3 linked regions of the Homo sapiens genome follow. The protein of the gene in region 1 purifies or fractionates together with the protein of each later gene. This does not show direct contact. Each region holds a gene or a part of one and is shown in the gene's direction. Other genes may lie near its edges.

Region 1 (7,329 bases):
CCAGTGGTGGGAATGGTTATGGAAATCTGAAGAACAAGAAAGTCTGATGTCCAATTTAAAGTTGATTTCTATGCTGAGCTGCATGGTTTAAATGACTAAAGAAATGACAGGCAGCCTTAAAAGGAAACCTTTGCTACCCTCTCCCAAATTTTCCAAAATTCAGAGATACGGATTCTGTATAGTTTAGGAGAAAGTAAATGTGCTAGGATAGGATTGGTGGTGGGGATATTCTGGGCTTTCCATTTGAGCTTCAGGAGTCTGGAGTCTTGGATGCCTGTGGGACTAGACAGTTCCATCTCTACATTCTGCACTAAGCAATCCTTAGCCTGCCTTTCCTTATCTCCAGAACAGAGCTGCCTGATGATAACGGCTTTTCATCTTTCCTCTTAGTTGATATGTAGGATCTATATGGTCTCAGATATTTCTCTACTGATTTATGGGTGCTAGAAATGGGCCTGAGACCCAGTGACCTAGGTTCTTCAGAGTTTATGGGTGAATGCTGAAGATCAAGATTCCAAGAGTTCACAAGGAGAAGGTGGGAGGAAATCTCTCTGGTCAAAGGGTAAAGATTATGAACTAATTTGTCTTTTCTCCCCCGATAAGGCTGCCTCCTATCCTCTGATCCCCAGGTCATAAGATAAGGTTGTTAATGGTATTATGTTATGAAGGTGGTGGAATTGAGAGGGGTCTGGGGAAGTTTGGGTTTGACAATCTTTGGGAATGCCTCTCTGATGGATTTGGACTGAGATTTCTTCTGACTTCCTGAATCCAATAATATCTCCTAACGTTCTGACTCTGTATTCCTTTAAATTACCCCAGGATCCCAAAGACCACAACTGGGACCTAAAACATTGTGAAACTTAAAATGTTGGAGGTTGTAACCGAGCATAGATATACCAGAAGGGTAGTTGTAGCAGAGGGTGTTCCCCATGGGGACAAAATTGCATAACAAAGGCTCCTAGGCAAGAGAAGGCAGGGCATATCTGGTAATAGTGAAGTGTTCTGTTTAGGTGGAATATAGGCAACTATATCTAGTACTCTCAGAAAAACAGCAGGAAAAGGGCTGGAAAAGCAGTCAGGGCTGGATTTTGGGAGAGCCTTGAAATCAAGCTCAGGCGTTTCTTGGGAAAGCATTCCATACCCATTGTCATGTATACCTCACCTGCTATTCATATCTCAACTCACTGCAATCAGGAAACTGTTGCATGGAATAGACTCTGAAATAACAATAGCTTAAATAAGACATACATCTATTTGCCTCACCTAAAAGAAATCCAGAGGTAGGCAGTTCACGTTGGCTTCATGAAATTGTTACGGATCCAGGTTCTTTTTAGTTTACTAATCCAGTATCCTTAGAGTGTGACCCTAGTCCTCATGGCCTTTATTCTGGGAGGCTATGTATCTAGCTAAAAATCAGGTGACTTATTACTAAGGAAGAAGAGGAGGATGAATACTAGGGTAAGCAATTAGCAAGCTATGCCACAAACATGTGCACTGAAACTATTCCTTCCAAGGTCACCAGAGACCACCACTTGATCGTCAAAATCCCCAGACATTTTTTCAGGTCTTACTTTTCTTGATTCTTGGCACCATTCATCACTATTGACCTTGACTCCTCCCTCCTTTTGAAACAATCTCTTCCCTTACTTTTGTGACACTCCTTTCTCCGGTTTTTTTTTTTGTGTTTGTTTGTTTGTTTTTTTTGATGGTGTCTCACTCTATCACCCAGGCTGGAGTGCAGCGGCACAATCTCGGCTCACTGTAACCTCTATCTCCCAGGTTCAAGCGATTCTCCTGCCTCAGCTTCCCGAGTAGCTGAGACTACAGGTGTGGTCCACCACACCCAGCTAAATTTTTGTATTTTTAGTAGAGATGGGGTTTCACCGTGTTGACCAGGCTGGTCCTGAACTCCTGACCTCAGGTGATCTGCCCACCTCAGCCTCCCAAAGTGCTGGGATTACAGGTGTGAGCCACCATGCCCGGCCCTCTCCTGTTTTTCTCTCTGCCTCTTTGGTCACTCCTTATCAGCCTCTTTCATGAGTTTCTTTTCCTCCACCTATACCAAAGATGCTGTTGGACTGCAGGGCTCTTCCGTGGGCCCATGTCTCTTCTAGCACTACGCATTCACCGGGGTGCTGTTACCCTTTCTCAGGAATTCAAGAACTATTTATGTACTGATGACTCCTAGATCTATAACCTCAGCCTAGACCACTTCTCTGAGCTTCAGATATGTATATTCAACTGCCTGTGGTACATTTCCACCTGGACATGCCACAGGTGCCTCAAAAGCAATGTTCAGTTCTTGTCTAACCTGCTCCTCAAACCCGCTCTTCCTTCAGTATTCCTGATCTCAGTGAAAGGGGTTACCATTCACACAATCTCTCAAATCAGATCGCCAAGAGTTCCCTTTGACACTCCCCTCCTCCTTGCCCTTCTCTTCACAATCCAGTTACTCAAGTCCAGTTACTTTTTACTTCTTTACTATCTCCTCGATTCAATCACTTCTCACTATCTGCCACCACTCTAGGCCAAAGCACAATCATTGCTTACCTAGATGACTACAAAAGTCATAAGCACTCTCCCTGTTTCCAAGACAACACCTAATCCACACTCCATATAGCAGCTAGGTGTTCTTTCTAAAACACAAACCTATGCTGTATCCTTGCCTAGAATTCTTTAGTAACTCCTGGGTGCTCTCAGGATCAACACCAAAGTCCTCATCTTGGCATTCTAAACTTGCCAACTTGCCATGATTTGGAAGGGGTGGGGAATTTGAGATGCCAGAAGTAGAAGAAAAGGAGGGGCTATGTCTAGTGTGGATAAGGGAGAAAATCTAGGAGGCAAGAACATGGTGAACTGATATCACACACTTGGAGAAAGCAATAATTCAGAGAAAGAGAAAAGACAGGAAAACAGAAGCCTGCCTTGAATATGCAAGAAATTTGTGTGTTTGTCTATCTTGAATTATCCATGGAACACAGGGATTCATTATATGTTATTTACATAGTAAAAGGTGACCACATAAAGCAGAAGACTTGTGTCCATTTGAATTACATTTATATGTGGAAAGGCACTGAATATTATTTCTGCAACTAACAGTTGTGCTGAATTTTATTATGGTTTCTAATAACTTTTTAGTTGATGCTCTTGGGTTTTCCAGGTCTGCATTTATATATTCAGTAATTAATGATGATTTGTCTATTTCCTATTATTTTACATCTTATTTTGTTCTCTTGAACAGATCCAATTGGTTATGTGAATTTATTATGTGATAGAGGTGCCATTTCAAAGCAGAGAGGGAAAAGATGGATTAGTTTGCACATGATGTAGAGGTAAGAGACTATGATTTTGAAGAGTAATCAAGCTGAATCCGTATAGAAAATAAATTTTGAAATGATCAAACATCTAAATGTAAATAATAAAGCCACAAAAGTGCTTGAAAAAAAAAACGGGGTTTGTTATAGGAGTGTGAAAAGCATCTTTAAGCAAGCAGCAGAATCCAGTTGTGATGAAGGAAAAATGGATATATTTGACTACATAATAATTAAACATTTTTGTTTGGCAAAAATTATCATAAATAACATGAAAAATATTTGTAATATGTGACATGTACAGGAGAGACATTGCTGGCGGGAATGTTATCCATTTACTTTTTAGGAGTAAGTTGACAAATTTTGCATCAAAATGGAAGACTTTTTTGTAGCATTTGAGCTAGCAAAAAATACCATAAATAACAAAAAGTGCACCAAGCAATCTAAATGTACATGTGTACTGGACTGGTTCAATAAATTATGGGACATCTATGCAAGAAAAGATCATGCAGCTGTTTAGAAAAATGTGCACTAACGGAAAGATGTTTTATATATAACTGGAAAAAAACAGGTCGCAGAACAGAAGGTATGTATAGTGTACCATTTGTCGGAGAGAGAACCTGAATAATTAGTATACGAATAGAAAAAAAATCTGGATAGCAAAATGTTAATAGTGGTTATTTCTGGGAGATGAGTGGCCTTTCATTGGTGTGTTATATATTACTGCATTGTTTGAATTTTTACAACAACAACAAAAGAACAACATATTACCTTTGTAATAAGAAAAAATGAAGATATAAAAATAAATTCAATGAATGACTTGCTTTCAGGGGGCGGTTTGAGTTGGAAGAGCTTCAGACTGAGCCTGGTACAGTGGCATAAACATGGGCTTTGGCGTCAGACAGCCCTGAGCGGGGCCCCATTGCCCCACCCCCGAGGAAGGCGAGGGGGGGTGGCAGGGGGCTGCGGAAAGGGGCTGGGCTGGGTTGGGCTGTCTGCAGCTCTAGTCCAGGAGGCTGAGACTTCGAGAGGGACTTAGAGAAGGCAGACGCATCCCGAACTCGCTGGAGGACAAGGTGAGGGGCGTTGATATTGGGGTTTTATGGAGGTCAGACAGTGGTTCCAGACCCCTCGAACCCATAGCCAGGCAGATGAGCAATTCTTACTGCACCACTGCAGCTGAAGCAGAGGTGACCTGGAGTGGGGTGTAGGCAATGAGGACGACTGAGAAAGTAGTAGGCTGTACAGACTGGGAGCAGAGACTAGCGGAGGGAGGAGGGGAGAAAAACGGGGAACCAGGAATGTTGGGAGGGGGACGAGGAATACAAGGAGGGAGGGGAACACTGAGGGGGAGTGAAGATCCAGAGAAGAGAATCGGGGATGCAGAGAGGGATTAAGGAATACTGAGGGGCAGGGTGTGCAAACGTAACACGGAGGAGGATGTAAGAAATGGGAAGAAGGAATTCTGGAGTAAATAGGAAATGTGAGGTAGGAATAGGGAGTAGGGAGCCAGGCTAAGGGAATACGGAGGGGGGCATAAGGAATGAGGAGCAGGGAGCGGGGGAGGGGCAGACAGGCTGGGACGGAGGCCCCCTAGGGAGGCGGAAAGGGGCGGGACCACTTCCGGCCTAGAGAGGGGAGGGCAGTCTCCGAGTTTCGGAGGGGCTTGGAGTGAGTGGACGCACTCGGGAATTGTAGGAGGACGAGGTGAGCAGCCGGGTCGGCTTTTGGATGAGAGCCCCGCTAGGGGTCGGCCCCACCCTCTGGGATCTGGAGAAAACCTGCCTTAAGGACCGGATCGTACCGGATCCATCCGGCTGGGAAGGGAGGGGACTGGACCCGGTTTGGCCGGGCCCAAGATGGAATCACTAGCTCAGTATTTATTTGAGGAGGGGGTGTAATAGGGAAGGGGCGGAACCAAGATGCGCCTGTTTGGAGGGGGGCGTGTTAGGAAGAAGGGCGGGGCCAAGAGACACTGGACTCTGTAGGGCGTGAGTAGGGGAGGGGCCGGGTCCACCAGACACTGCGACAATTTTGGAGGAAGGCTTGTTGGGCAGGGGGCGGGACCGAATGGTACTGCGGACCTGGAGAGGGGCGTGTGTTGGGGCAGAGTGCCAGACTGAGACCACGACCATTGCGCATGCGCACTATGTTTCGCTAGAAAGGGGCGTGTTGAGAAGGGCCAGCACTGAGAAGAGCCAGCTGCTGAATGCGCATGTGCACGGTGGACATCAAAGAAAGGGCTCGTGCTGGGAAAGCGGGCGGGGCTGAGAGCGGCCCTGCAGCCGACGCGCATGCGCTCTATCGACCTGCGGCTGGGTGGGGGGTGCACTGGGAAAAGGGGCGGGGTCCTCAGAGCTGCCGCGCTGGCACATCTTCCTGGAGAAGGGGAGGGTGCGGCTGCAGAGAATTGAGACTTAGAAGCTTTGAATTCCTGTATCTGAGAACGGAGTCGTTGGGGGTGGTGGAGGGGGTTGGAATTGGGGACCTACGGAAGGTGAGGATCAGCCTCCAGGCACAACAGGGGAGAGGACGTTCAGTGGGCTTCAACTTGACCCAGGCCTTCTCCCCTTCAGGCTCAGCTCTTGCCAGGCCAAATTGAGACATGTCTGACACAAGCGAGAGTGGTGCAGGTCTAACTCGCTTCCAGGTAAGGCCTCTTTCTGTCCTTTCCCCAGCTGCTTTTCCTCTCCAGCCCTTGTTGCTGCCCCCAAGTCCCTTGGCTCTTCCCCTCCCATCCTTGTCCTTCTCCACCTACTTTCCTGCCTGGGTGTCCCCCTGCCCAGTGGAGGGAGGGAGAGAAGGTGGGCGGGCCCCTCTTCTGCCATCAGTTCTTGCTCAGAGGAAAGGGAGGCCTTGTTGGGCTGAGGTGGTCAGAGCACACCGCAGGTAGGAGTCAGTACAGGTCAGAGAAGTGTGGCCTTGGAATTTTGGAGCCATTTGCTTAGTTGGGGGTGAGGAGAAGGTCTATGAACTTCCCTGCTTCCTCTTGCAGGCTGAAGCTTCAGAAAAGGACAGTAGCTCGATGATGCAGACTCTGTTGACAGTGACCCAGAATGTGGAGGTCCCAGAGACACCGAAGGCCTCAAAGGCACTGGAGGTCTCAGAGGATGTGAAGGTCTCAAAAGCCTCTGGGGTCTCAAAGGCCACAGAGGTCTCAAAGACCCCAGAGGCTCGGGAGGCACCTGCCACCCAGGCCTCATCTACTACTCAGCTGACTGATACCCAGGTTCTGGCAGCTGAAAACAAGAGTCTAGCAGCTGACACCAAGAAACAGAATGCTGACCCGCAGGCTGTGACAATGCCTGCCACTGAGACCAAAAAGGTCAGCCATGTGGCTGATACAAAGGTCAATACAAAGGCTCAGGAGACTGAGGCTGCACCCTCTCAGGCCCCAGCAGATGAACCTGAGCCTGAGAGTGCAGCTGCCCAGTCTCAGGAGAATCAGGATACTCGGCCCAAGGTCAAAGCCAAGAAAGCCCGAAAGGTAAGACCTCTGCAGTCACCACCCTTGGTTTTCTACTCCTCTCTCAGTTGATTCATTTGTTCTACAAACATTTAGAAAGATCCCTGTGCTCATCAGGGCTGTGGGGGGCACTGAGAGTAATGTGATGTAATTCCTGTCTTCAGAGAGCTTGCAGACTGATGGGGAGGTGCAATCTGAATGTAATGCAGTTTATGTTTACATAGTAGCTGCCCTGTATTAGGCCTTGAGCTAAGCACATTTATGCAGGTTATCTCATTAAATCTTGAAAGTAATTCTCATAGCCCCAATTTTATGGAGAAGGAAGCTGAGTTCCAGAGAGGTGAAGCGGCTTGTCTAGGATGGTTCAAGCAGAGCCAGTAGTGGGCACAGAAAGAGAAGAAGACTCAGCCTCCACCCACCCTTGGTTTGCTCCTGGCCTGCTAGGCAGATGAAACACCTGCTTGGAAGTCAGTGAGAAACAAATCCAGGGTTCAGCATGGCCAACATCTATTGAGTCAGGCTGTTACTACAGGGGTGGGATTAGCGGGTGCT
Region 2 (7,457 bases), on another chromosome or scaffold:
AAATCCCAACTCTGCCATTTATTAGCTTTATGACTATGGATAAATTATATTAAGCCTGTGAGTCTCAGTTGCCTTACCTGTAAAATAGGGATAATATCACCATTCTCTTAAATTATTGTGAGGATTACATTAAATGAAATATAATGCCAACACTGGGCACAATGCACCTAGGAAGCACTCAGTAAGTTACAGTTATAATGACCAGGGTACCTAAGAGGTGTGGCCGGAGCACAGGTTCTGTAGCCAGCCTGGCTATGATCCTCAACTTAATGGCTTGTGTGACCCTAAACGAGTTACTTAACTTTGCTGTGGCTTAGTTTCCTCATCTGCCAAATGGAGATAATAATAGTAACTATATCATAGATTTGTTGTCAGGATTAAATGAGTTACATGTGTAAAGCACACAGAACAGTGCCTGCCACTGAGGAGGCACCCCATAACTGTTAGCTTTGAACAAAAAAATTAAACGTGGCATGAGTTGGGATAGCACGATATTAAAATTTGGGAATATGCTCCATTCTTCCCCTTCTTTTTCTAATGGGTAGCAAAATTGTACCTTGTACCGCTTTTAGAGATACCTGTCGGGCTCCGGGAAACATCTAATTTCTACTGTGTTATATAGATTCTCATTTCCAAGCCTTCTTGCTTCATTCACTGACCTTTGTTATCTTGGAGAGAGGAAATATGTATCTATCCCAGAAAGAATGAAACTTGTCTGTTTGTCAAGGGCATGACACAGCATAGGTCTCAGCATAGGCAAGTTTTTTTGTTTGTTTGTTTGTTTAATGGGAGGAGCAGTTGTTTTTCTCTCCTCTCAATGCACCTGTTAACATTTATTGAGTGCCTGCTATGTACTATGTATTATCCCAAGCATTTTCACATTTCGTATGTCATCTTATATTAATTCCTCTTATATTAATCCTCTTATATTAAAACTTATGAGGGAGATGGAAGTATTCTATATACAGGCTCAAGGTCACATAGCTAAGAAATGGCAGACCTGGTCTTCAGATTCCATATCCAGGGATCTTTTTGCAGGGCTATGTTGCCTTTACCCTGTCTCTTCTGTGTTTTTGAGCACAGAAAAAGTTTCTTTTTCAGGAGTGGTATACTACGGTTATTCCTCAATATCCAAAGGGGATTGCTTCCAGGATCTCCTGTGGATACCAGAATCTGTGGATACCAAAATCTTCTAATGCTTTAGTCCCTGATAGAAAACACCATAGTATTTGCATATAATCTGGGCACACCCTCCATTTTTTTGAGATGGAGTTTTGCTCTTGTTGCCCCAGGCTGGAGTGCAATGGCGCGATCTCGGCTTATCATAACCTCTGCCTCCTGGGTTCGAATGATTCTCCTGCTTCAGCCTCCTGAGAAGCTGGGATTACAGGCATGCATCACCATGCGCGGCTAATTTTGTATCTTTAGTAGAGACGGGGTTTCACCATGTTGGTCAGGCTGGTCTCGAATTTCCGACCTCAGGTGATCTGCCCGCCTCGGCCTCCCAAAGTGCTGGGATTATAGGCGTGAGCCACTGAGCCTGGCTGGGCATATCCTCCTATATACATTTTTTTTTTTTTTTTGAGACAGAGTCTCATTCTGCCGCCCAGGCTGGAGTGCAGTGGCTTGATGTCGCCTAACTGCAGCCTCCGCCTCCCAGGTTCAAGCGATTCTCCTGCCTCAGCTTCCTGAGTAGCTGGGACTACAGATGTGTGCCACCATGCCTGGCTAATTTTTGTATTTTTAGTGGAGACAGGATTTCACCATGTTGGCCGGGCTGGTCATGAACTCCTGACCTCAAGTGATCCACTCACCTGGGCCTCCCAAAGTGCTCTGATTACAGGCATGAGCCACTATGCCTGGCCTCTCCTATATACTTTAATCTCTAGATTACTTATAATACGTAATACAATGTGAATGGTATACAAATAGTTGTACTGTATTATTTAGGGAATAATGCCAAGAAGAAAAAAAAAAGCCTGCACTTGTTCAACACAGACACACACAAAAAAAAATTTTTTTTTTTTTTTTTCAGATATTTTCAAGCCATTGTTGGTTGAATCCACAGATACAGAATCCTTTGGCTACTGTTGGGTCCTAATCACCTCAACTTTAGTTATAGAATGAACTGTTAATTTGGGGAATTATGTATCATTCCAGTCTAGACTGTTCAAGCTCTTGCTCCCCCACGGGGGCCTGTTCTTTTTTTTTTTTTTTTTTTTTGTGTGTGTGTGTGTGTGTAGAGTTGGGGGTCTCACCATGTTGCCTAGGCTGGTCTTGAACTTCTGGGCCTCAGCCTCCCAAAGTGCTGAGATTACAGGCATGAGGCACAGTGCCCAGCCCTCAGGACTTCTCTAATAACACATTTAGTAGAGAGATTAGTTGCCATCATTATCATGATTATCAACAACAAACTGTGACTAAGGGCCCTGAGGTATGGAGTAGTATCATGATTCTTTACATCGCAGGCTATTTATGTTAGAGGAGCCTCAAAGATAATAGGGCCCAACCCCCTCGTTTAATAGATGACTCATCAACTATGATGATAACCAGAGACGTGGCTTGGTGGCCCTGCAGGCCACCTGGACATATGACTACCCCATACATAGCAAATTCCAGCAGCATTCCAGTTTTGAAGTATGGCAAGTTTTTGGCCAAATGAAAGGTATTTAAGATACAGACAGATAGGTAGGTCTCTAGTAGTAGTCCTCTTAGGAGAAGAAAACAAGACTGCTGGCAGTGAGGTCTTCATTCATGTGCTAGAAGAACCTGATTCATAGAAACCTGATATTGGGACAGTTCTATAAATATAGCCTCTACATTTGAATAGAGTATGTAAATATCCAGGACCATGTAAGAGGACTTTTTGTTTTCTACTTTGGAAGTTGGGCTCTGACTCTTTGATTTCACTCTGTGGGTTCTTGCAGAGAAGCATGTTTAGTGGGCTGTTCCTTTGTTATACTTTGTTCTTATGTCCAGATTATGTTATATAATTTGTTTCTAATTTTTAGTTGTAGAAGCAATCTGTGTTCATGAAACAGCACAACATACACCACGCAATTAGGTTTATTCCCTTGTAGTAGTGCTGTTTGAGTGTATCTTTAGAAATCTATGAAATTATTCCTAGCTCTCTAATAGGTCAATATTTGGCCAGATGCCACACCATAGGTTATTCAACAATAACAGTAGTGGCCATTGAACACTACTGTGTGCAAGGTGCCATGCTTATAAAAAATAAGGAAAATTTGATAGGTAGTAAAGTTGAATAACTTGACCAAGTTTACACTTTTAGTAAACAGTAAGACTGGACTCAAACTCAAGGTTGTCTGACTCCTGATCCTGAGCTTTTTAGAGCTTATTCATGGAGTATGAAACCTGTAGTGAGAGTCCTCATAATAGTCTGGTGTGTCACTGAGCTGTTAGCTTGCTTGATCTCTAAATTGAACAATGGTTTAACTCTTTTTTTTTAAATGGGGTTTTATCGTGTTGCCCTGGCTGGTCTCAAACTCCTGGTCTCAAGCCATCTGTCCACCTCAGCCCCCCAAAGTGTTAGGATTACAGGTGTGAGCCACCATGCCCGGCCAATTTAACTCTTTATATTTGATTTTTTGCTCCTGTTTCTCTGGAAATTAAACATGTAAAGAAGGTGAGATGGCTGACTGTTGGCTAACAGTTCTAGAAATACATGTACAGCTGGAAATGCTTGTTCTCTCTTTCCCCATTTCAGCCTTAGAAAGGGGAGAGAATAAAGATAGGGGTACTGAATAAGTTAAGTATGATCTAAGTTGGATAAAAGAACCCAGGTTTATAGAAGCCAACATCTATTGGATCCAAACACTCTTAGAGGTTTGAGCTTCTGAATAGATTGGCGCATTCCAGATTCAATTTGTAGTGCCTCACAGACCATTATATTTTCTAATTAAGAGCAACAGAATAATTAGACCTTGGTACTATTCTGAATTCCCACCTTAAAAGATTAATTCTACAGAGGAACTGTTTAAAAGACACTTATAACTTACTGAGTGTCTTTCCAAAAGACAATTTATTTTTCTTTCCCCTTACCATTAATGCCAAAAAAAAGTTTAGAAGAAACGTTATATTAACAAGTAGGTACATTTATTCCAGATAATTTATGGAATTAGCATTTTACATATAATGGCAAAAAAATAGGCTTTCTTGGTTTCTTAGTGCGATTATTTTCATTTGTATTGAACCTTTAGGGGCTTTAGTTTACAACTTTAACCTGATATCTGGCACTTTTAAGTCTAATGTTAATTTTCACTAAACCTCAGGTCTATACATTTCTAAGTATAGCCCTCAGATTTACAATCTTTCTTTCCTCTCCTCCTTCTTTCTTTTTCTTGTTCTTTATTATCTATTTAAAAAAAATTTTTATTATGAAAACAATATACCAACAATGAGTCTTCTTTTTAAAAAATTGCTACATAATATTTTGTCAGGTGAATATATTATGTATAATAGAATACTGTCACATGCATAACATTCCGTCAGTCTCCTGTTGGTTATTCCAGTTCTCGCTTTTTTTCTTCCACTATGTTGGATGACACTGCAGTGATACACATATAATTATTCTCTCCTTCTAGATCAGTAGGATAAATTCCTAGGAGTAGGAGTTCTGGGTCAAAGAATATGAATATTTTTATGTCTTCTAATATGTGTTGTTGCCAAATCACTTTCTCTTTTAAGGTTTATGTCAGTTTATACTGCCACCAGGAGTATCATGCCTGGATTATTGATGTCCATTCCTCACAGGGCATTATGTCCTTAGTCTTGCTTTCCTTTAATCTGGCCTGTGAGCTACCGCCCAAAATGTTCTACCAGAATGCTGGTCTCACACCTCCGTCGTAGTCTTCCCCTGGTTGCCTGTCACCTATTTGCCAATTCAGGTGTAAATTTTAAAATCCATGCCCTTACCACCTGAGTTCATTCCTTTTAATTGTTTTGCATCTATATTCGAGGCAGCCTCCCTCCCTCAAATGGCCACTCTCTCCTACCTCTGAGTCTTCCCTCTGATCATTTCTTACATTCAGAACTTCTTTTCTGCCAACATTTCTCTATCTTCTTTAATTTAAAAAATTGCTGCTTCTACAAAGATGTCAACACAGAACCACCTGTGATGATGATATCTTTAGTACTCAGTGTACTTCACTCCTGGTGGGTTGCCAGTAAATATTTGTCAGTGTGGCTAATGAGAGAAAGAAAAAAGAAAAAGTGGAGAGATTTTTGGTGGAGATTTTTGTTTTTTAATAGAAAGGCTTAGAATTCTTAAGAGTACTTGGTTCTCCTGAATAAAACTTCAGAGGAGAATGAGGAATTCTGTGCTCTATTTTTGGGGTACCATTGTTCTTTCTGTGATCATGGGCAAGCCAACTTATTCTGTCTTCTATTCCCCTCTACTTCAGCTACAGAGTAGAAAATATAGTATTGCCAATCATTGCAGAAGAGTCATGACACTCTCTGCCTTTCCAGTTATTTTTTCCTCATAATCATTGGCATCATCATCATTATATCCCTAATATTTACTGAGTATTGCTACTTGCCAGCACTGAGATTGTGCTTTATATACATGCCTTAGCTTTTTTTTAACTGTCACAGTCTCTCTATGAACTAGGTACACCCTGTTTTCAGATGAGAAACTCAGTTCCAGAGAGTTTACTTGCTTAAGGTCACAGCTAGTAGGTGGTGGAGCCACCATGATTTAAACTCTTATTCTTATTGAATTACTTTTCTGAAATATCAAACCATCAAGTCTTCCCTATCCACAGTTCTCTGATGATTTCTTATTGCATATGAAAAAGAAAGTATAAACTCAGCAGCATCGGAAGGCCCTTCCAAATCACTGTCCAGTCTACTTTTCCATTCTCTTCTTCCTCCATGCCCCACCCCAAACGTATGTCCTGTGTTCCAGTCTCACAAAGTTGCTTATTTCACAAATATATCATATAGTTTCACACATTCGAGCCTTTGTTTTTGTTCCTGGAATGCATTCCATTTGCCTCTGGCAAACTCCTGTTTATCCCTCACGATCCAACACAAATGCTCTGTATTCTGTGAAAGCCATTCCGGATTTTCCTGGGCAGTTAGTGGCTTGGTTTGCTGTGCTCCTTTGTATATATATCTGCTGTAGTCTTTTCACACTGCTTTATAACTATTTGTTTACATGCCTGTCTCCCTTACTTTAATAAGAATATTGAGATACGGGAAGGCAACATTTTTTACAGGGACATTATTTTAGATGCTATTAAACGTAGCCAAAATTAAAAAATACATGTATTTAAAATGACATTGTTTCCCTTTTTTCCCCCTCAGCATAGGGCTACTTTCAAATTTGAATCAACAGATGAAGATAAAAGAAAGGTAAGCCTTGGTGTTGCTCTGTGAATGTTTATGTGTGTGTGTATTGCATTCATGGACTTTCTAAGCAGTGGTCATGTTTTCATCTGATGGTTATTGATTGGTTTCTTGTTTCCCTTCATTTTGTTTTTTAGGAACCCTGAGAAGAAAGGTTAGGTTAGGTTTAGTTTGGGTTACACGTAACTCTTTCCTCCTTTGTCCTCGCAGGACTATTAACACTTGTATAAATCAGGGGAGTGGGAGGGATTCAGAGGAGTCTCTTCCCAGATCTACTCACTCCCAAAGACTGACTGTTTAGTGGCAAGACTCCAGGTTGCCCAAAATCCATTGCTAATATTACAAAACTTAGCTTGAGGCAAGGTCTCGCTCTATCACCCAGGTTGGAGTGCAGTGGCTCACTGTAACCCCAGACTCCTGGGCTCAGGCAGTCCTCCTGCCTCAGCCTCCCAGTAGCTAGAGCTACAGGCACACACCAGCATGCCCATTTTAAAATTTTTTTGTAGAGACAGGGTCTCATCATGTTGCCCATGCTGGTCTATTGAGCTTCTGGCCTTAAGTGATCCCTCCTGCCTTAACCTCCCAAAGTGCTGGGATTACAGGTGTGAGCTACCATGCCTGGCCCTGCCTTTGTGTCTTGCTGTACTCCGTACATCTATCCCTGGCTATACAAATGCCAGAACCAAACAAGAGAGTATGACTGAATCAGTGTAAATCTATCACTGCTGCTAGAAAAATAGCTTAAATCCAGTATTTTGCTAGTAGTGGGTTGACAGTGCCTTGAAATCATTCCTCCATTCACCTGTATCCCCATACCTAATATCAGTGTCTTGCTCATTTTACGTTTTCAGATTTCTTCCATCCATTTTCTCCTTAACCTCTGCTCTAATTCAGGCCTACATCTGATTACTGCATCAGTTTCCTGACTGTTCTTTCATTTTCCAGTTACATGCTTTTCTAGTAGATTGGCATCCATAAATCCAAAATAACAATCTGACCATGTCATCCTTAGCCTTAAAACCCTTCATCTATCCCTTCATTGACTTTCTTTACCTACAGAATAAACTTCAAGCTTCTTAACATGA
Region 3 (7,577 bases), on another chromosome or scaffold:
AATATCCTGACAACTGGGCCATGAGGAAATACCCTTGTCTTTAGCTGCCACCACTGGGGTGAGCGGAGGTTGGCCCAAAGCCGCGGTGCCATCCAAGGAGGCAAGAAGGAGTGGCGTGTGCCCCATTTCCAGTGGTGGCTGCACAAAAACGTATCCAGATTGCCAGGGGCACGCCTGGTCCCCACAGCTGGTGAAGGCCTGGCTCCACCTGGACTGCAGTAGGGCCAGGCTGTGGCCCCTGTTTCACGCCCCCCAATTCAGAGTGATTCTGGGCCGCTTTTCTGCCTGGAGTTTCCCCGTTCTGAGGGCCCACTGCCCGGTGCGCCTTCTCTCTGCCCTTCCCTGACTTCCTCCAGTCTCCCCAGGCTGGGTCCGAGGGCCTGCAGTGACAATAGGCTGGCTGGGCCCAGGCCATTGGCTTGGCCCCCAAGAGGACCCCAGCACCTCCCTACCCTGCAATCTCTTGCTGTCAGGCTGCAGCAGATCCTTCTGGAACAACGTGGGGTGGACACTTTTCTTGTATAATATTAGTTTGCCTGTGGAAAGTGTTTCTTTTCTGTACATGAAAGCTCTGTTCAGCTGTAAGAGCCAGATTTACATCTTCCTGTTTTTCCCCAAAGAGCAATCTTTGGTGTCTTTACTATAAAAACGTCATGTATTCATTATTTAAAAATAAATAATACGGAAAACTTCCAATATAAAGTAGAAACTGAAAGACCCCGTGCCCTACCTCTCAAATCCCTACAACATTTGGGGTACAGTCTTCCAGATGCCTTCTTTCTGAGGCCGGGAAGCTTGCAAAGGCACTCCCTGTCTGCGCACCCCTCTTGTGTGGAGTACGCCATGGGTGTTTTCTGTTCTCCATATACCAGGAGAAACCAGCCACCTCTCTTGGATGTCTCCAGGGCCCCACTTTGTTAATGCCCCACAGGCTGAGCCCCCAGCCTACTGAGGGGGCTTTGGGCATTTCTGAGGCCTCGGCTCCAGCTCTTGGCGGCTGCGAGGTCTTTTGAGGAGTAGCGCCCCCACCACAGGTGAAGGGCATGGCCGCCCCCTCCAGGGCCAGAGCCACTTAGCTGGGGGCGTTAGAGGGGTTTCTCTGTTTTCTCCTCTGTTGAATGGGGCAGTGATTGCTGCCTCTACTTCCAGGCCAAGGTGTAGCCATTGTCAGTAGCGCCCAGGTAAGGGCACAGCTCGCCAAGTGCCAGGCACTTTTCCGGGTGCTGGCAATGTGAAGAAGAAACACGTGGTGTCTGTCCGGGACTGTCTCCCGGAGCCTCAGTGAGGACAAGGCAGCCAAGAGCAGAACTACAGGCAAGGTAGCCTCTGGAGGGGACTCTTGATCTCCAGGTTGGAGGAGGCTGAGGCAGCAGAGGGGTTGTAGACAGGTGGGCTCATGCCTGAGGCCTGGCAGAGGCAGCGCTGGGAAAACAGGAATGAAACTCACCAAGCGCCAGCTACCCTGGGAGTCCTGATCCCAGTGGCCCTCAGCTCTGGCTGCATGTCAGTGTCATCTGGGGACTTCTTTGTTTTGACACAGGGTCTTGGTCTTGCTCTGTCACCCAGGCTGGAGTGCAGTGGCATGATCACAGCTCACTGCAGCCTCTAAATCCCAGGCACAAGTGATCCTCCCACCTCAGCCTCTCAAGCAGCTGGGACTATAGATGCACCACCATGCCTAGCTAATTTTTAGATATTTGGTAGAGATGGGATCTCATCATGTTGCCCAGGCTGGTCTCGAACTCTTGGGCTCAAGCAATCTGCCCACTCGACCTCATTACCTAATTGCATCTGTGAAGACTCTATTTCCAAATGAGAATCTTCCAAGGAGAGAAACCACCAACCACCAAGAGAAAAACACCACCACCACAATCATTCCAGTTCCAGCAGATCTCCCAGGGAGCAGGTCCAGCTGCCCCCAGCCCCAAGGCCCAGCTCCCTCAGAGGATCCACCCACCCGGATGCCACCCCCACCAACCCCAACATCCAGGAGCAGGGGGATCCCATTACTGCAAATGGTCTTGAGACTTTATTAGATGGGAGGAAGGACCCTCCAAACTTCAAATGCCCAGGTTCTTGTGTCATTTCTATCATTGTTTATGCTTCCGCAAAGCATAAAGCATGACCTTTGTAGAAAAGTCTGAAAGTCTAAATAAGTAAAATAGGAATTGAGAGCACACACACCCTCTCCTAAAACACAGATGGCCAGACAGGACTGAGCACGCTGTGTGGGTCAGGCCTCAGCCATGCACCGGTCACCTCTGAGGGGTTTTTATGTTTTTTGTTTTAATTAGTTTTTTTTTTATTTTTTATTTTTTGAGATGGAGTCTCGCTCTGTCGCCCAGGCTGGAGTGCAGTGGTGCGATCTCGGCTCACACTGTAAGCTCCGCCTCCCGGGTTCACGCCATTCTCCTGCCTCAGCCTCCCGAGTAGCTGGGACTAGGGCGTCCGCCACAATGCACGGCTAATTTTTTTGTATTTTTAGTAGAGACGGGGTTTCACCGTGTTAGCCAGGATGGTCTCGATCTCCTGACATCGTGATCGGCCCACCTCGGCCTCCCAAAGTGCTGGGATTACAGGCTTGAGCCACCGCGCCCGGCCTTTTTTTTGTCTTTTTGAGACAATGTCCCCCTCTGGTTACCCAGGCTGGAGTGCAGTGGCCCAATCTCTGCTCACTGCAGCCTTGACCTCACGGGCTCAGGTAATTCTCCCACCTCAGCCTCCCAAGTAGCTGGTATTACAGGCCTGAGCCACCACGCCTGGGTAATTTTTTGTTGTTGTTGTTTTTGGAGCAGGGGAAGGGTGCTCTATGTTGCCCAGGCTGGACTTGTTGCCTCTGCCTCCCAGAGTGCTGGGTTTACAGGCCTGAGCCACGGCGCTCCGCATTAATTTCTTTTTAGAGATGAGGTTTCACTATGTTGCCCAGGCTGGACTTGAATTTCTGGGCTCAAGGAATCCTCCTGCCTCAGCCTCCCAGCTTACCTCTGAGGTTTATAACCGACGCTATGTTCTTAATCCCTCAACCAGGAGCCTTTAAATGGTTTCAAATTTTCCCCATTACAGGAATAACTTGCTAATAATAATAATAATTAGCAATTGTTTCAAAAGTAACGTCATCCCAAAAGAGAACGTTTCTGAAAAAAATGCACATTAGACTTGAAGACCCCCAATGGCACGGTTGAACATGGAAATGAACCAGCCTCAAAAGTCCCAGCGTAGGGGTTATTTTCCAATCAAATTGGATGCCTTTCTACAAAATGTGATGTGCACAGGCTGGGGCTGGTACCTTCACCCCAGCCCAGAGGGCACCATGAGAGGGAGAACAGGGCGGGCGAAACAGGCCAGCTCCTCCCCAGCCCTCTGCCCTGCTCTGCTTCAGGGGGCTGATCTGAGGGCCCAGTGCGCACTGCTTTTCCTCCTTGTCCGACAGGGTCTCCCGCAGGCCAGAACTAGGCTGCTGGGACACTGCGGGGCTCAGGGCGTGGGGGAAGAGATGCAGGCAGTGGCTAGTCCCGTCCTGTCCGCGGAGGTGACCCAGCCCCGACCTCTTCGCAGAGGAAGTGTTCTCCAACCTGGGACCTGGGGGATGAGCGGGGGTTAGGCTTACGTCCCAACCACTAACGGGGCTGGTTGAAAACGGCTCCCAGGCGGAGGGGCCCTCCGCGATGTTCTCAAGGAGTAGCGCGAGGGGACGACATGGGAGGTGGGGTTCTCACATCAGCGGGCGCACGGAGTGCTGGAGGCACCGACCCGCCGCGGACGGGATTGAACTAGGGAACTGGGAGGGCGCAGGAGATAAAGACGGCTGGGGCCGGGGCCCACGGAGAGGGGTGGTGCCCAGTGTCCCGCGAGGATGTGGTGCCACCCGGGGAAGGTCCCGGGAGCGGGGACCCGGGACCCCCCGGAACCACACACGCGGTCTCCACCTTGCCCCGCCCCATTTAAAGAGGCGGAGGAACGCAGGGCGCGCGCCGCGCGGAGGAATATTTGCATATGGCGCGGCGTTTCTTCGGAGGCTTGTGATTGGTTGCTGACTGCGGCGCGAAGCGCAGTTGACTTGCGCCGCGCTCGGCGAATCGCAGCCTGTCTTGCTCGCGGAGAGAGGAGCTAGGAGCCTCGGCCAATGGGAGCCGGCGTTGTTGGAGGCCACGGCGGCGCAGCCCCAAAGCGAGCGAAGCTAGGGTCGCCGCCACTGCCGCAGGAGGCGTGAGGTGCGGAGACACGGGTGCTGGGCCGGTAACGGCGCGCTGGGGAGGGCGGCCGGGCCCGGACGGGCGGGTGGGGCCGCGGGTCCGGCGCGGGCGCGGCGGCGGCCATCTCTGGAAGCCTCGGGGCGGTGGGGCAGGGGCGGGGCCGCGTTCTGGTCGGGGCAGGCAGCGGCGGCCGCGGCGGGGCCTGGGGCTTGGGGCCTGGAGCCCGGGCCTGGGGCGCTGGCGGGAGGCCCCTCCCAACTCCCGGCGCGCCTCGCCCGGCTGCCCGCCTCACTGAAGGTCAAGGCGCTTTGTTCTGCGCCGCGGGCGGCCTCCTGGGCGGCGGCCCCTTGGAGGAGGCGAAGACGGCGAGAGGCGGCGGCCGCTCAAATCTCCCGCTAGCCCAGCCCGCCCCGCGTGCGGGGGCTGTGGCGGTTACACGGCCGGGCGCGCCGGAGCGTTCAGGCTTCCCGTTTTTAAGGTGGAGACGTCCAGGACTTCTTTATTAGATGTTTAGGAATTTGAGTTTTTCCGTAGGGCGGTTGTCATCGTGAGCCTCTGTGGGGTCAGGCTGGGCTAACTGGGGTTTTGATGTCAGTTTGGTGTGGCCGAGGGCATGTCTGACGGGGAAGAAAGTCCTTGGCGTTGCTTCTTAGCTGTTGGGAGCTGTGCGGTGGGAGCGAGCTGGGCGGCGTGCGCTCCCCGAGGACTGGCCTGAGTGGCCTTAGACTAGTTACTCACGGGACTTGGTTTCCCAGCCAAGGTGGGCAGCAAGTCTGTTTACTATTTAAAACCGTCTTTCACAAGGGAAAAGCAAAATCTCCAAAAAAAAAAATTGTACATGTTATGGATGGGAAAGTGCCATGCTTTTCTTTCAGTTCAGAGATGGTGGAAGAGGTCACATTTGTATTTTTTGACCTGACCAGAGTCTTTGTTGTTTTCAATTTTCCCCTTCTGAATGCTTTCCGTTCACCCCAGCGAAGGATGGCCTGGTCATGATAAGACTTTCCACCGTCCACAGTTCTCTAAGTCTGATTGCGGGGCAGGAGGCAGACATGTTTAGGGTCCAGTAAAGGGGACTCCAGCCTTGGGACCTTTAGACCCTAACGTGTGTGTCACATCACCTGCCTGGGTGACTGTGCGCTCCTCTGGCAGGAAGGTCCGCCATTTCATTATGTTCTCGGAGGAATCGTCGGGGCACATTCGTCTGTGCTTTGGTTCGCATCCCCCAGTCTGCATTACTTTTTCCTGTAGTAACCCGTGCCTTATCCTCCTGCATTAGGTTTACGGGGTGAAAATAGACTTTTAAAAATTCTCTTACCTTAGAAATATACAAATATGTAGATTAGGTTGTTGGACCTTAAAGGTAAGTCTTTCTAAGTTACTACCTTCCTGTAATAGTAACTATACCTCTAAATGACTAATACCTGCACTGCGCACCAGGGACTCTTTCAGCCTGTTTGCGTGTGTTAACTCATTTCATAATCTAATAACCTGAGATAGATGCTATTGTTTTTCCATTTAACTACTCTGGAAGCTGAGGCCCTGGGAGGTTAGGTATAATGACTTGTCCGAGGTGACAAAGCTTAAAGACCCAGGCAGTTTTAACTGTACCCAGGGTTACTGCTTCTGTAGAGGGAATGAAAGAAGTTTTAATGAGAAATTGTTTTCATCATTGTGCTAAGCTTAACTGAACTCTAGCTTACGAGGTTTTGAGCTGGTTGATCATTTCCATCTCAAAATTCTCTTATTCCACAGAATGCCAAATGCCTCCTATAGTAGAATTTTGAGATTCAGACTGGGATGAGCAATTGCTAATGGAATAAATAATATGCAAATGTAAAATGAAGTTCAGAGAAAGCAACGTGGTGATAGAATGGGAAAGTAATCCAAAGATAAAATGAGTGACTACAGAGAGAGAGAAAATTAGTTATTTAGTAGTAGTTCACAAGTTTACTTAGAGATATTTTTACTAGAATTTCAGGGCCTTATGATGTGATTTTTATGAACCATTTTAACACGTTACTGCCGTCTTAAATAGCTGTTATTACATATCCAATTGCAGTCTTTTTTTTTTCCTGGTTGAGCAGTGTTAGCTTCAGAATGTCTGCAGTTATTTGTGCCTATATGTCATATAGGCACATATAACACTTTTGTGAATTTTGTTGTGTAAGCTTTAAATCCGGTACTGTTTTTCAAAATGAATATGGAGTAGTCATTGGAGAAATTGGTTGAATTCTTTGCAGTAGCAAATAAATTTTAATCATTTTTAAGTTTGATAACTTTGGTAAACTGAATTCTGAAAAGTTTACACATGTTTTAGGATGTCCTCAAAATGTACAGGGCATTGTGTTTTGCAAATTAGCCATTTAGCCATCAGATTCTTCTGTAGAATTTTGATCTTTTTGCCCATATGAGAGGTAGTTCTTATTTGTATGGAGGTTAAGTACCTGCGGATGGGATGTGTTCATCACCACTTTACAGTATGAATTTGAATTTGAAACTGAAATGAAAACTTCCTAACCTGTCAGAGTTTTTAGTAGCCTCTTGTTATTGACCGCATGTTAATTCCCTTTGTTAGCTATTCGCAGCTAAGTGTGGGGACTGAAATCTTTATTTTGTTTTCCTTCTTTTGAGCAGTTGATAGTCTCTAGCATCAGGAGGAGGTGACCTCAAATATGTATGTATATATAGTAGTGCTTTTCTTCCTTCCCTTTAGTTGTCTGCAGTTTAAAAATTATTGTGATAAGTTTATGTTGTACTTCCAAAAATGTTGCCAAAGAGCCTATATTTTTCAGTTTGTTTTGGAAGAAAAATACTTTGTGGGCAAGAAGGTGATTTAAATTCCTGACGGCCTAAGAGGCGTCAGCTGTGTGAAATAGGCGAGTGCTGTTACTGCTTGAAACCATGATGGTTTATATTTGAATAAGACAGCAGAGATGAGCTTGTTGGGAGTTTGGCCTGAGATTGCTAGCTAAGGAATGCTTGCTTTTTTGCTTAAAGGGAAAAGTGTTTTAGGCTTCCAGAGTAGAAATCTGATATTACTTCGTTTGATTCTTCGACCACTATGGTGATAGGAAGTAGCTGATCTCTGCAGGAAACTGCTGTTACCTGGCCTCAGCTGAATTTTTGTGGGACCTCCTGAGGTAAGCAAATTTATGCCTCCCGAAACTATAGTTGTAAGGTTTGTCTTTGAGCATATAGTAATGGAAAACCCTTATCAGTAGGTAGATAGTAAATAATTTTGTATTTGGCTGCTAATGAAATTTTTAAGAAATAGTTTGTGGTGATATAAATTAGTTTTCATCTGGCAGTCATTGGTTTTCCACCCTGCCCTCTTAAGAGAGAACAGGGTTGCTTTACTTTGTTTGCCAGAGCTTTACATTT

The links.
Region 2: the proteins of MAGED2 (region 1) and RIC8B purify together in Homo sapiens (co-immunoprecipitation; 3 studies listed by BioGRID and IntAct, with this or other methods). This does not show direct contact.
Region 3: the proteins of MAGED2 (region 1) and NAP1L4 purify together in Homo sapiens (affinity purification with mass spectrometry; 4 studies listed by BioGRID and IntAct, with this or other methods). This does not show direct contact.

What each region holds. Positions count from the first base shown.
Region 1 is NC_000023.11:54,803,416-54,810,744, forward strand, and holds the start of MAGED2 (melanoma-associated antigen D2), read left to right. Parts: upstream 1-4,329; 5' UTR 4,330-4,387; intron 4,388-4,930; exon of another isoform or gene 4,931-5,018; intron 5,019-5,665; exon of another isoform or gene 5,666-5,808; intron 5,809-5,887; 5' UTR 5,888-5,916; coding exon 5,917-5,961; intron 5,962-6,306; coding exon 6,307-6,798; intron 6,799-7,329. UniProt on the Homo sapiens protein: Regulates the expression, localization to the plasma membrane and function of the sodium chloride cotransporters SLC12A1 and SLC12A3, two key components of salt reabsorption in the distal renal tubule.
Region 2 is NC_000012.12:106,777,667-106,785,123, forward strand, and holds part of RIC8B (chaperone Ric-8B), read left to right. Parts: intron 1-6,330; coding exon 6,331-6,378; intron 6,379-7,457.
Region 3 is NC_000011.10:2,988,888-2,996,464, reverse strand, and holds the start of NAP1L4 (nucleosome assembly protein 1-like 4), read left to right. Parts: upstream 1-4,135; 5' UTR 4,136-4,211; exon of another isoform or gene 4,212-4,236; intron 4,237-4,357; exon of another isoform or gene 4,358-4,671; intron 4,672-4,673; exon of another isoform or gene 4,674-4,953; intron 4,954-5,361; exon of another isoform or gene 5,362-5,556; intron 5,557-7,193; exon of another isoform or gene 7,194-7,336; intron 7,337-7,577. UniProt on the Homo sapiens protein: Acts as a histone chaperone in nucleosome assembly.